Linked DNA regions of Homo sapiens: region 1 is linked to region 2. Evidence: fine-mapped expression QTL. A gene starts in region 2. The other region holds a variant in brackets. All regions are shown on one strand. Distances are from middle to middle. Region 1 overlaps CCDC88C (coiled-coil domain containing 88C). Region 2 holds the start of CCDC88C (coiled-coil domain containing 88C).

Evidence for each region. PIP is the estimated chance that this variant, and not a neighbour inherited with it, causes the effect.
Region 1: its variant is the best candidate, but not a certain one, in a credible set for the expression of CCDC88C in atrial appendage (GTEx, PIP 0.72).

Annotation. Positions count from the first base shown.
Region 1 is chr14:91,351,068-91,356,397 of GRCh38, forward strand. All of the region lies in intron 4 of CCDC88C (coiled-coil domain containing 88C), which reads right to left. Among named protein-coding and RNA genes, the nearest start is that of CCDC88C, 64 kb to the right of the region's middle. RefSeq lists enhancers at 1,398-2,369, 3,831-4,341. The variant T/C (reference allele first, on the strand shown) is at 2,961.
Region 2 is chr14:91,414,669-91,419,990 of GRCh38, forward strand. It overlaps CCDC88C (coiled-coil domain containing 88C), which reads right to left and starts at 3,152. Exons shown (of 30, transcript NM_001080414.4): 1 at 2,963-3,152; 2 at 2,070-2,170. The coding sequence starts at 3,022. CCDC88C-DT (CCDC88C divergent transcript) reads left to right here and starts at 3,578. Exons shown (of 3, transcript NR_184261.1): 1 at 3,578-3,672. It also overlaps the pseudogene LOC112268126. RefSeq lists enhancers at 1,078-1,207, 1,598-1,727, 1,738-2,027, 3,633-4,277, 4,518-4,567 and a silencer at 2,648-3,567.

The sequences.
Region 1 (5,330 bases), 64 kb before region 2:
AACCAGCGTTTGCTGACTGAGTGAGGTTAACTGTTAGCATCAAGTACCTGGGTTAGAACCGCAAAGAGAGCAGTTTCAGTTTCTCTCTTCTACGGCACGTATGTGTGCTTACTTATTCTACATTCTCTTCTCTTCTGGCTTACATGCTGGTGTGAACCACTAACTGCTTTCCCTGGTTTTGTACTTAAAAACCAGTTATTTCATAAGGATGCTCACGAGGCTGTCACAGTGATTTGAAAACAGCAGTGCACTGAACACGACCCTGTTGTCTCTCCTCAGTACACGGGCACACCCCAACACTCACTCACATGGGCACGGCTCTGAGGGCCCTCCTGAGGGCTCAGCTTACAACGAGAAGAGCTGTTTATTATTATTTTAACAGTTGGGGTACTTCCTAGGCACTGCCGAGGAATACTCAAGGTGGAGAGTTCCCCGTGGGTGGGCACATGGGGATGCTCCATCATATGTGTCCCCACCCATGGGGAAGGAGGCAGGCACCTCTACGCACGGGCTCACATTCTGGGGAGCGGCCCCTGTGGAATCCTCATGTCACCACGTGCCCCCACCCCCCGGCATTAACATAACCAGGCACACATATTTATCAAACGTGGACTCTGGCAGGCGCTAAGCTGCATGCCTGTGTGGAATGGTGCAGGAGCCTCCCGGGGGCACTCTGACTAGTGGCCCTTTACTCTAGTGTCTCTCTGCTGCCCATGTCAAGTCAGTCCCACCCCCACAGATACCCCAGCACCACCACGCACAACAGACGACAGCTACCCCCAGGTCATGTAGAACACTTTGAAATATCAGCCCCTCGGAGCACCCTCACCCCAAAAATGACCTCCTACCCCACCTGCCTGCCACGCCTGCAGAAGCTGAGAGCGAATTCATTTCCCAGCACCAAACAACTGAAGACCAGAAAAGCAGAATCAGCCACAAGCCTGCAGCTTGAGACTCAAGTTTGCCCTGGGAAGGGGCGAGGAGCTAGGGCAGGCAGGGGACGCTCTGGGAAAGGGTCCCTCCCAACCACCACGTGGAAAACTCAAACATAAAGACCTTTGACAAATAGCATCTCTTCCCTCCTCCGCAGACGGCGGTGGCCACAGAGAGTAGGGCTGCTGGAAGCCATGGTGTGGCTGTTGCAGCCAGCGGCGTTCTCTGTGTGCCTGGGCCATCGCTAGGAAGTTTACTAACAAAGTCTGGTCTCCAGGCAGATCCGCGGGTGCTTGGAGGCCGGCGTGTGGGCCGCACTGTGACGCTCGGCTGGGCTTGGTGTCAGCCAAACTCTGCACCTTCCTAGGAAAGGAAAGCCTCGGCTCCTGGCTTAAGTGCCCCAGCACCGCACGTGGACTGGAGCCCTCATTTCCGGATCCAACAAGCAGCACAGAAGCAAAGAAGCAGGATAGAAACGGGGTAGTTTAAAACAGCATTTGGTTGCTTTTCTGAACCTTCTCTCTCAAGGATGAAAGAGGAAATTTTAGAACAATCAAAATGCCTGCAAGATTAGCTTTTTCTTATTTCTTCCCTCCCATTCAAACGCCCAAAACGTTTTGCAAATATGAAAATTATATATATATACACACACACATATACACTTATACACAGGATTAGAGAATTATGGCCAGGAGAAATAAAATAAAAACAACAGGGGTAGGGGAAAAGAACACAAGAATGGCTCATGAAGCCTGAGTGGCCGACCCTCAGCCTCCACACCACACGGTGAGCAGGCATGGAGCCAGGGGCAGGACTGGGAGGGCCGCAGGGCCAGGAAGACAGGGCTTTTGATTTTTAAAAGCACCATCTCTGCAGCAGGAGGACTGTTCCTCACAAGCCGGACTCTGAGCCTGTGCCTGGGTTGCCAGGATGGAGGTCAGTAAGCCTGGGGCACACCCAGCCCTCACAAGTTCCCCGGGGCCCCCGAAGGAAGGCAGGGCTGTGCCGTGTGGGCTACGAGAGAGAGGTTTCCATGGGATCTGAAAAGCACTCCAAGGACACACTGGCAGGAGAGCAAATCAATACTGAGAGGGTTAAATATTAAATTCCAAGGAGTTTCAGGAGGTCTGTTTCCTCTGGCCCATGAATCCTAAACCTCAGCTGTCACAGAAGGCCTCCTCCTTGCCCCAGGCTTGCTGATCCTCATGAGACTTCCAGCAACTTGCACTCCCCTGAGCTCGTTCCACCTAGAACACCTTTCCTCGCTTTCTCTGTCCGTGGCTTGCCCAGATATTGCCTCCTCCAGGAAGCCTTCCTGGCCTGCCCAAGCAGAACTCATCAGCCCCCTTGCACTGGCTGTGAAGCACATTCTTGCACCATCTTCTGTCCTAGAATAAATGTCGCAGGACTCTGTCTTCCCTTCCTGCCTCAACCCAGACTGGGGGCTTCCTGAGCAGAGGCGGCCTGTTCATCTCACCAGCAGAGGGGAGCTAAAGGAGGGGCTTGGGCTGAGCTCCTTTTGTGAGCCTCTGGCTGAGGGGCAGCCAGCTAAGATGAGGAAGGATGAAAAGGTACTCCAGTCTTTTATTTGGGGAGGTCAGAAGTCGGGCCTTCTGGCTTCCTCAGCCGGTGCAGTAGATAGAGTTCTGCACTCAGCTGAGAAGGAAGGTCGGTCACAGCATTTTGTGCGCACAGAACCTTGTCTCTTCAGGGTGCTTCCTCTGCTGCTGGAATGCGCACCCTCTGTAACCATCATAAGAGAGAGAAAACATAGGACAGAGGGCCAGGCCGCTGAACGGCAATTAATGAAACCCCAAGGCTCTTCTCAAAGGTTCCAGGGGCATTCAGACAGGACCCTGTAGGGTGTGCATATGCAGTCGCAGCCCCTCCAGGGCTTCCAGGAATCCTGCTTGGCATTTAGAATGTAAGAAACATCAGGGCAGACCAGTGACAGTAACCCTCTTGCTTGGAACCAGTGGCTTACTGTCCACAAAAGTAACCATCTGTGCAATTTATGGTGTGAAATC[T/C]GTCTTGCGCCTATGGGGACCTCCATGCTGTGTGCCTCTGAATGAGCTCCTCCGCTCTCTGGGCTGGGCTTCTACACCTAAATGGCTCGTTCCCTTCCATTCTAAATGGCTTCGGTGGGATCGGCCATGTGTAAGTCTGGAAACCACTACTATACTTGGATACAAACCCTGGAAGAAAAAACAATGCTTTCTTCCAGTGCAACTGTCCTGTGATTCATCGCAGAAAGTAATTTGCTAACACCCTGGCTTCCCGTCAGACAAATCTAGTCTTTTCTTGTGCGTGTGGCACAGTGACAGGCCTGGCTGCTGAGCAAGATGCTGAGAAGCCAGAGCTGGAGGGACCCCGGAGCTGGTCTAGCTCCATCCAGCATCCTCCCTCACAGCACAGACGTGAGCTCTTGCTTCTCACAGGCTTCTTGTAGAAAACACTCACCAGTAACCGCGAAAGATATTTAATAGCTGTGCAGCTGGCAAGATGGTGAAGGCGGTTTTCAGGGAGTCATCTCAGGCCTAGGGGAGACAGACACGTGGTACTGGGCAGAGAATGAATCTCACTTGACCCTGACCACTGACAACTGGCCTTCTTATCTATGAGAGCAAGTGGGTAACACCTGTCAGGGGCCCCAGCTTGACGGGAGAGCAAAGTGGAGAGAGGAAGAGAGAAAGGTGGGCCCCCTGCATGGATGCTGTATTTACTGAGCACCTACTACATGCCAGACACTGATCTAGGCATTCGAACGCACTGACAACAACAACAAAAAACCCCAGGATTCCTGCTGTCATGAGAGCGTGCACCCTAACGGGGGAAAAGTATGCAATGCCACAGAGGGGAAAAAATAAGTGAACAGTATAGGCTATTCACAGGTGCCAAAAGATATGGAGAAGGGAAAGCAGAGCAGAACAAAGAAGACAGGGCGTGTGGCAGGAGAGACAGGTGGGGCCACACTGAACAGGGGCTCACAGGAGGTGTTTACACAGCTCGCTGGCAGAGGGACCGGCAGGTGCACAGGCCCTAGTGCCCGGAGCGGGCTGCAAAATGACAGTCGGCTGACCTGAGGAGTGGGCTGCTCGGGCTGCCATGCTGGGAGCAGACTGCAGGGGGCAGAGGTGAGGACACTGCCCTGGGGAGCAGCCAGGCGGAAGCAGGGGAGCTGGTGGTGGTGAGGAGGGCTGCAGAGGAGAGCTCGGCTTCTGGGGGTGCACTGAGGGTAGACCCGGGACACCAGGCGACAGCGCAGACACGGGTAAGAGGGAAGGATAAGGATGGCTGAGGGGAAACAAGGCGAAGGACGCTCTACGGCACTCAGGCCCCAGAAGCCTGCACACCGCCTCACTATGGGGGCAGGCTCTTATAAGAGCCGTCATATAAAAGTGAGGGCGGGGTTCAAGCAGGGTCCAGCCAGAGCCCAGGCCGTGCTCGGAGAAGCAGAGACTACAGCAGTGAGGCACCAGACAGACCCTCCCCTCCCCGGGGGCGTGGGTGCAGCTGAGAGTGAGCTGCAAAACCACAGCACCATCAGAGCAGAAATCCAGAGACGGTCCCAGGGCAGACACAGCGTAAGGGAGTGAGGAGTTTGGGCCGGGACGGGCAGATGCTGAGGAGAGATTTCAAAAGCAATTTTCAGTATACGAAGTACTGTTTCATAGTTACTGCACTGTCCTTGACTTCCACCCAGGATAGGAAGAGAGTGAACACCCTTCTGTCTGATGGGTGTGGGGGGTTAAGTGAGACATACAGAAAAACTGTAAGTTGTGGCACCTCCCTTTTTTAGGTCAGAGAAAGGGGACAAATGCGTAGACTCTCAGGGTCTTTTAGTATCATTGTGTTGGGGAACAGTGGGTGGACCAGATGCTCTGTTGGGATCTGGAATCTGGGAGCTTGTGATGCTATGTGCCCAAAACAGAAAAGTTACCCCAAACTATAAAACGTTATAAATAACAGTACAGTGTTAGCATCCATCAAAAAGAGTACAAAGCAAGCCCCTCACACACGACGGGGATAGATTTAGTCAAAAAGCACACACATGCCCCACCCCGGGCAACCATACAAATTAAAAAAACACCAACTTTGTTCTTTGTTTAAAAAGAAACGAAAAGAGCTTCACACATCTATTTTTACAATTTAAAACTGAAAATGCTATTTCATAAATACATCCCTCTGCCCCTAGCACTGGTGTCTGCATCTTCCTGCTGGTGGATGTCCGCTGCCAGCCTCCTCTGCTCTCAGAGCACCATGGGACCCCTGTCAAACCTACTCATCCGTGCACCCAGCTCCCCGTCCCCCAGCCCTGACACGTTGCCCTCTGTGTGCAGCCTGCCGAGGCCACCGTCTAGCATGTCAGTCAGCGAGGCCCGGGGCCCTCTGAGCCC
Region 2 (5,322 bases):
CTTTCCTCATTCTGGAAAGCCAGCCATTCAGCCTCCCCACGCTCCATTCCTCTGTGCCCAACTCATCCTGAGGGACCCAGAAGCACTTCTTGAAGTCTTAAGAGCTACAATTTACCAGTTCCCACTTCTGGAATGATTACCTTGGCATATCACAGAGAGAACATCTAAAATTGCCCAGGGAAGGGGAGAAACCCTCCCACCCCACACCACCCCGGCCGAATTTAGCCATGGGCCAAATGAGAACAAGTGATGAGCTGGCGTTTCTCAAAGGAACGGTCCAACAGGCTTTCCTGATTTACAAGCAAGTGGGAAACGCTTCAGGAATTCCAAAGGTCAGGGAAGAAAGAGAAACAGTCCCAGTGCTTTTGTTCCCCCCTCTGCCTGGGTGTAGGAGCTGAATGAAAAGGCTGGGGATACTGCTGGTTTTTTTAATTAAACAGTCTTGGGCTTGGGTAAGGACAGGTTGAAGTTTCACCGGTCATTGCGCCAATGGAATCCAGTAATTTTCAGGGTCTAACAGAATGAGGGGAGAGTGGCCAGAACTCGAATATGCCACGAGACAGCTTCCGGAAAACTCAGTTTCAACAAAGTTATCTAAGAAGTGCTGTCAAAGCTGGCAACAGATTTATGTTTTTCAATCTAATCAGACACTGAAGACTGGTAAGATTGGTAGTGACTTTTTTTCCTACACCCACAGCTGTGAACTTTAAAAAAAAAAAAGCAAAAACCATTAAACAGCATGACATCAAATGACTTATTAAAATAAAAGGAGGCCGGGCACCACAGTGGCTCATGCCTGTAATCCCAGCACTTTGGGAGGCCAAGGCAGGCGGATCACCTGAGGTCGGGAGTTCGAGACCAGCCTAACATGGAGAAACCCCATTTCTACTAAAAATACAAAATTAGCCGGGCGTGGTGGCGCATGCCTGCAATCCCAGCTACTCGGGAGGCTGAGGTAGGATAATCGCTTGAACCCGGGAGGCGGAGGTTGTGGTGAGCTGAGATCACGCCATTGCACTCCAGCCTGGGCAACAAGAGCGAAACTCCGTCTCCAAAAAAAAAAAAAGCAAGGTTCTTGAATTATTTTTTTCTAAACAGGCTGTTTAAGGCAATCTATATAAGCCACTTTCTGGATATGCCAAAGCAAACTGCTCCTCTGCCTTTGTGAGCCACAAACGAAGCTGATCTCTCATTAGCTAATAGATTTATGCTCCAGTATGACAACTTGCTCAGTCGTAGGTGAATAGGTGCGCACACGAGGCTGATCCACAGAGAACATTAGGATGTTTTATTTTGCTTCAAGTGCCTGTGAATCATCCCGACACTCAGTTCCAATGTTCCCTGCAGTTTGAGTTAAAAACAGAATGCAAAGGTAGAAGCCAACACCTACGTTGTGGCAAGCTGTCAATCAGGCCGTGCAGAGCTCAGCAACAGGAAAGGATGTGGTCAGATGTACTCGCTGGCAAGAGTAACTTCTACTAAGACCCTGTTCAGGCTGCATGCTTCCAAACAAACAGCACCATGGGACCCTCCTAACACTGTGACTTTAAACTCAGTCCATACAGTAGGACTTAATGAATTGCACTTGCTTTGGGGCAACTGAAAAAGGAAGATGAAATGTAAAGGAGCTCAGAAACACAGACACCCTCATCTAAAATGAAACTTTACAGTAACCCTCGGATGCCTGGGCCCACCCCGACACTTCCTGTAACCAGACACTCTCCGTTACAGTTCCTTGCCCTCCAAAAGGGGACTTTTTCATTTCATTGCTCAAACCACAATTAAGTCCTTGAGTCTGAAGTCAATTGCACTATCTACACCACGTAAATGACAGTCATTCAATTCCAAATTTCCTTCATCAAACCAACTGCCAGACCCACTGTCCTGGAGTTCTTCAAACACCTACGAATGTCCAACAGGCACGTTAATACTGAGATACCAGCGTCTCCACCTTCAGAGAACTACCCCCCACCCCACACACACCCCGCCATGCAACCTTCCACTCCATTTCTACTCTCAAACTTTCTAACGCACCATTCTTTCCTTCCTCCGAGAAGAAGGTAACTTACATTTGCAGCATAATTTGGTTCAAAAAGATGCCGTCCACTAAATCCATGTACATAGTCAGGTTGTCCTGGCTGCCGCTTCCAAACGGGCCAAAAGTTTTCACCTGCGGGGAGGGGGACGAGGAGAGAAAGACAGGAAGTCACCCCGTGCGCACAAACGGTCCAAAGCTCTCCCAGGCAGAGACTGGACGGGTCAGTGTGAGCAGAAGGGGGTCACCCACGCCCACACCACCCTTCAGCAGGCACCAAGCCCGGCCTTCTCCTAGGGCCTGTCTCCCCTCCCCGCGCGGGGCAACAGACACGAGACAGGAGGAAAAACTTCCTCGCCACTTTTCTCCCGCGTTCCAGAGCGGAAGAAATAAAAATAAAAAGGACTTTTCAATAAATGTCTCACGTCTCAAATCCATTGTAAATCAGTGCGCCCACCCCAGTCTGTTCGCTTTCCCATTCGGCGCCCCCCATTCCCCACCCGTCACCGCCATCCACCGGCTGGTCTCAGGGATTCAGAAAAACTACATGAGATATTTGGTTGGGAAGAATGGGGTCCTTTTCGGGAGTGGCTAAACCCCAGGGACAGGAGTGACCACTGGGACCCGGTCCGCCCCGAGGCAGCCAGCCTAGAGCCCCAGCGGGAACAGGTGTACCCGCCCGGCTCCTGGCCCGGCCGAAAGCGCGGCGGGGTCCCGCGCCGGACGCACAACGGGGGCGCCGGCTCCAGAGTTACAAAGCTCCGGACTCCAGGACGCGGCCCCAACCCCGGCCGGGAGCCACTTGCTGCGTCCCTCGCGCCCCGGAGCCACCCGGGGCCCCGGCCGTGTCGGGTCTGCGGCGTCCCGTCGCCGGGCTAGAGAGAAGCCGGTGCACCAACAAAGGGGCGGGGAGCCAGGCGCACTCACCCAGGTCACCAGCGGGCTCTGCAGGAAGAGCTCCAGGAGCTCCGAGACTGTCACGTCCATGCTGAGGCTGCGCCCGCCGGCTCCGCGCCCCCCGCCCCGCGTCCCCGTTCCCCCGCGCCGCGGCACAAAACGGCTCCGCAGCGAGCAGCGGGCGCGGGGCTGCGGCGGCTCGCGCCCGGGAGACAAAGGCGGGGCGCGCGAGCCCACGTTCCGCGGCTTCGGCGGCCCCGCGCCCCGCCCGGGTCTGGGGGAAGGGGAGGGCCAGCCGCTCGGGGAGGAACAATACGGGCGGCCCCGCCCCTCGGCGGCCCTGGGCGACCGGCGCGCCGCCTCGCGGTGCCAGCCCGGGAGCCCGGGAGCCCGGGCGCGGGACCAGGCTACGCGGGGCGCTGGGAGGGGACTGGTGGCCCGAGGCGGGTGGGTCGCGGGGCCCGGCTCCCCGCCCGTGGGACCGCGCGCCCTCGCCGAGCGCAGCCTCCCCGCGTGTGGGGCCCCAGCACGTGGCGCATCCCTGCGCGCGTGCGCGTGCAGCCGGGGCCCGAGCGCCACGTGCGAGCTGGGGTGCGCGGGCACTGGTGCGTGCCGGGAGCGGGGACGCCCTGCCCTCCGAGGTTGCTCTGCCCTCCGAGGTCGCCCGCAGCTGCCGCCCGCTCTGGGCTTGGGGACCTCGGCCCTGCGCCTTTCCGCACTCCTGGCAGGTGCAGCCCCAGGTACAGTCAAGAGGCCCCGCAAACCCCCGCTCCTCACGCTTGTGCGCGGCGCGATAAACGCGCCCCGACCCTGGGGCTGGGCTGGAGGGCAAAGAAGAAACTTTATGTTGAGTTTAGGCCTTAGGGGCGCGGCCCCTCGCGCCCTACCGTGCCCCACCGTGCCATGTTCCGGGCTGCCTGCCTTCTAAAAGTTCCTGCAGGAAGCAGGTGATGTGGCCTCCCCGACCCGGGCCCGCCCCCACCACTTTGCCGGAGGCGAGCTAAATTCCAGCCGGGGTTCCTAGCAGCAGCTTAGTGGCAGGCGACAGGAAAAAGGGCAAAGGCCCCAACTGGCTGGAAGGCAAGCCCGGGGGCAGGACCTCCTTGCGGGACGGCACGAGGCAGGAGCCGGCTCCAGGCTGGTCTCGGCCTGGTAATAATTTCACACCACCAGCCGGTCATTGTTCAAAGCACTGTAGACCATTTTACTAATTTAACCCTAACGATCGCCGCATTTCGCAGCTGGGCCAACTGGTACAGGGTTGACCCGAAGGGCCCTGCGTGGCGCTTGGCAAGTATACAGCAGGCACTAAATGGCTGCCGACAGGCTCGGTGGTAATTTTGAAAGTTGGCTCTGTGCAGCGTTGGGGCTGCGGCATCTGCTGGTGGCGAGTGGTATTACAGCCCAGCGCTGGCGGACCCCGTTGGGCTGGGGAGGGTTGTGAGATTATGGCCTGAGAGCCAAGGGGGTCGGTTAGGGGTCCCTAGAGACTGTGGAAGGCGGGGTAGCATAAAACACAATGGGGGACTGCGGAGGAACTAAAATTTCGAGACTACATGGTTTTGTTGTGCACCAGAAGTTCATTAGAGAAGTTCCTTAATTGCTTCTCCGCCCGCCGCGATGGCACTCGACCCCGCGGATTAATTTAACAACTCTGATGGTTGCTCTGTGAAATTTAAAGAACAGTGGTTTAAGCAAAGACCACAAGAAAGAAGAATTGAGATCAAAGAGGAGTGTGTGCCATCGCTGTGGAGGAGTTTCAGTTGTGAATCATGAAATGTCCTGTAAACCATTTCAAGGAGTTTGATTTTTATACCAAAAACAATGGGAAGACACTACAGGTTTTTGGAGCAGCAGCTCAGACGTGTCGAAAAAGATGTTTTGATCCCTAAAATAATGAGAGAAAAGGCCAGAGAGAGGTCTTCTGACAAGTTCAAGATTTTACCAAATGTTGCAAGAACTCTGGAATCCTTATGGTAGTAAAATGCTGGAAAGAAAATTCTGCATTGAAAGAATGTCTTAACAGCTCACTATAATGACCCAGCCTTTTATGAATAATGCAAAGTGGAAAACCTGAAGGAAAAGGAAGAATTCAGAAAAACTGGAATTTCTACAAAGAAAAGTCTACAGAAGCTGCCCACAAGTGTGTAGACAAATATTCAGATGACATTCAGGATCTCTAATACTCATGGAAGTCGTTTATAGAATAAACCTTAAATAATGGACTCAAGAATGTGTGTTTGCTAATTATGTGTGTATCCTAATTATGGAAATATTAATTTTATCTGAAATAAAAATCTTTTTTTCTTTTCTCTTTTTTTTTTTTTTTTTTTTTTTTGAGACAACAGAGTCTCACTCTGTTGCCCAGGCTGGAGTGCAGTGGCGTGCTC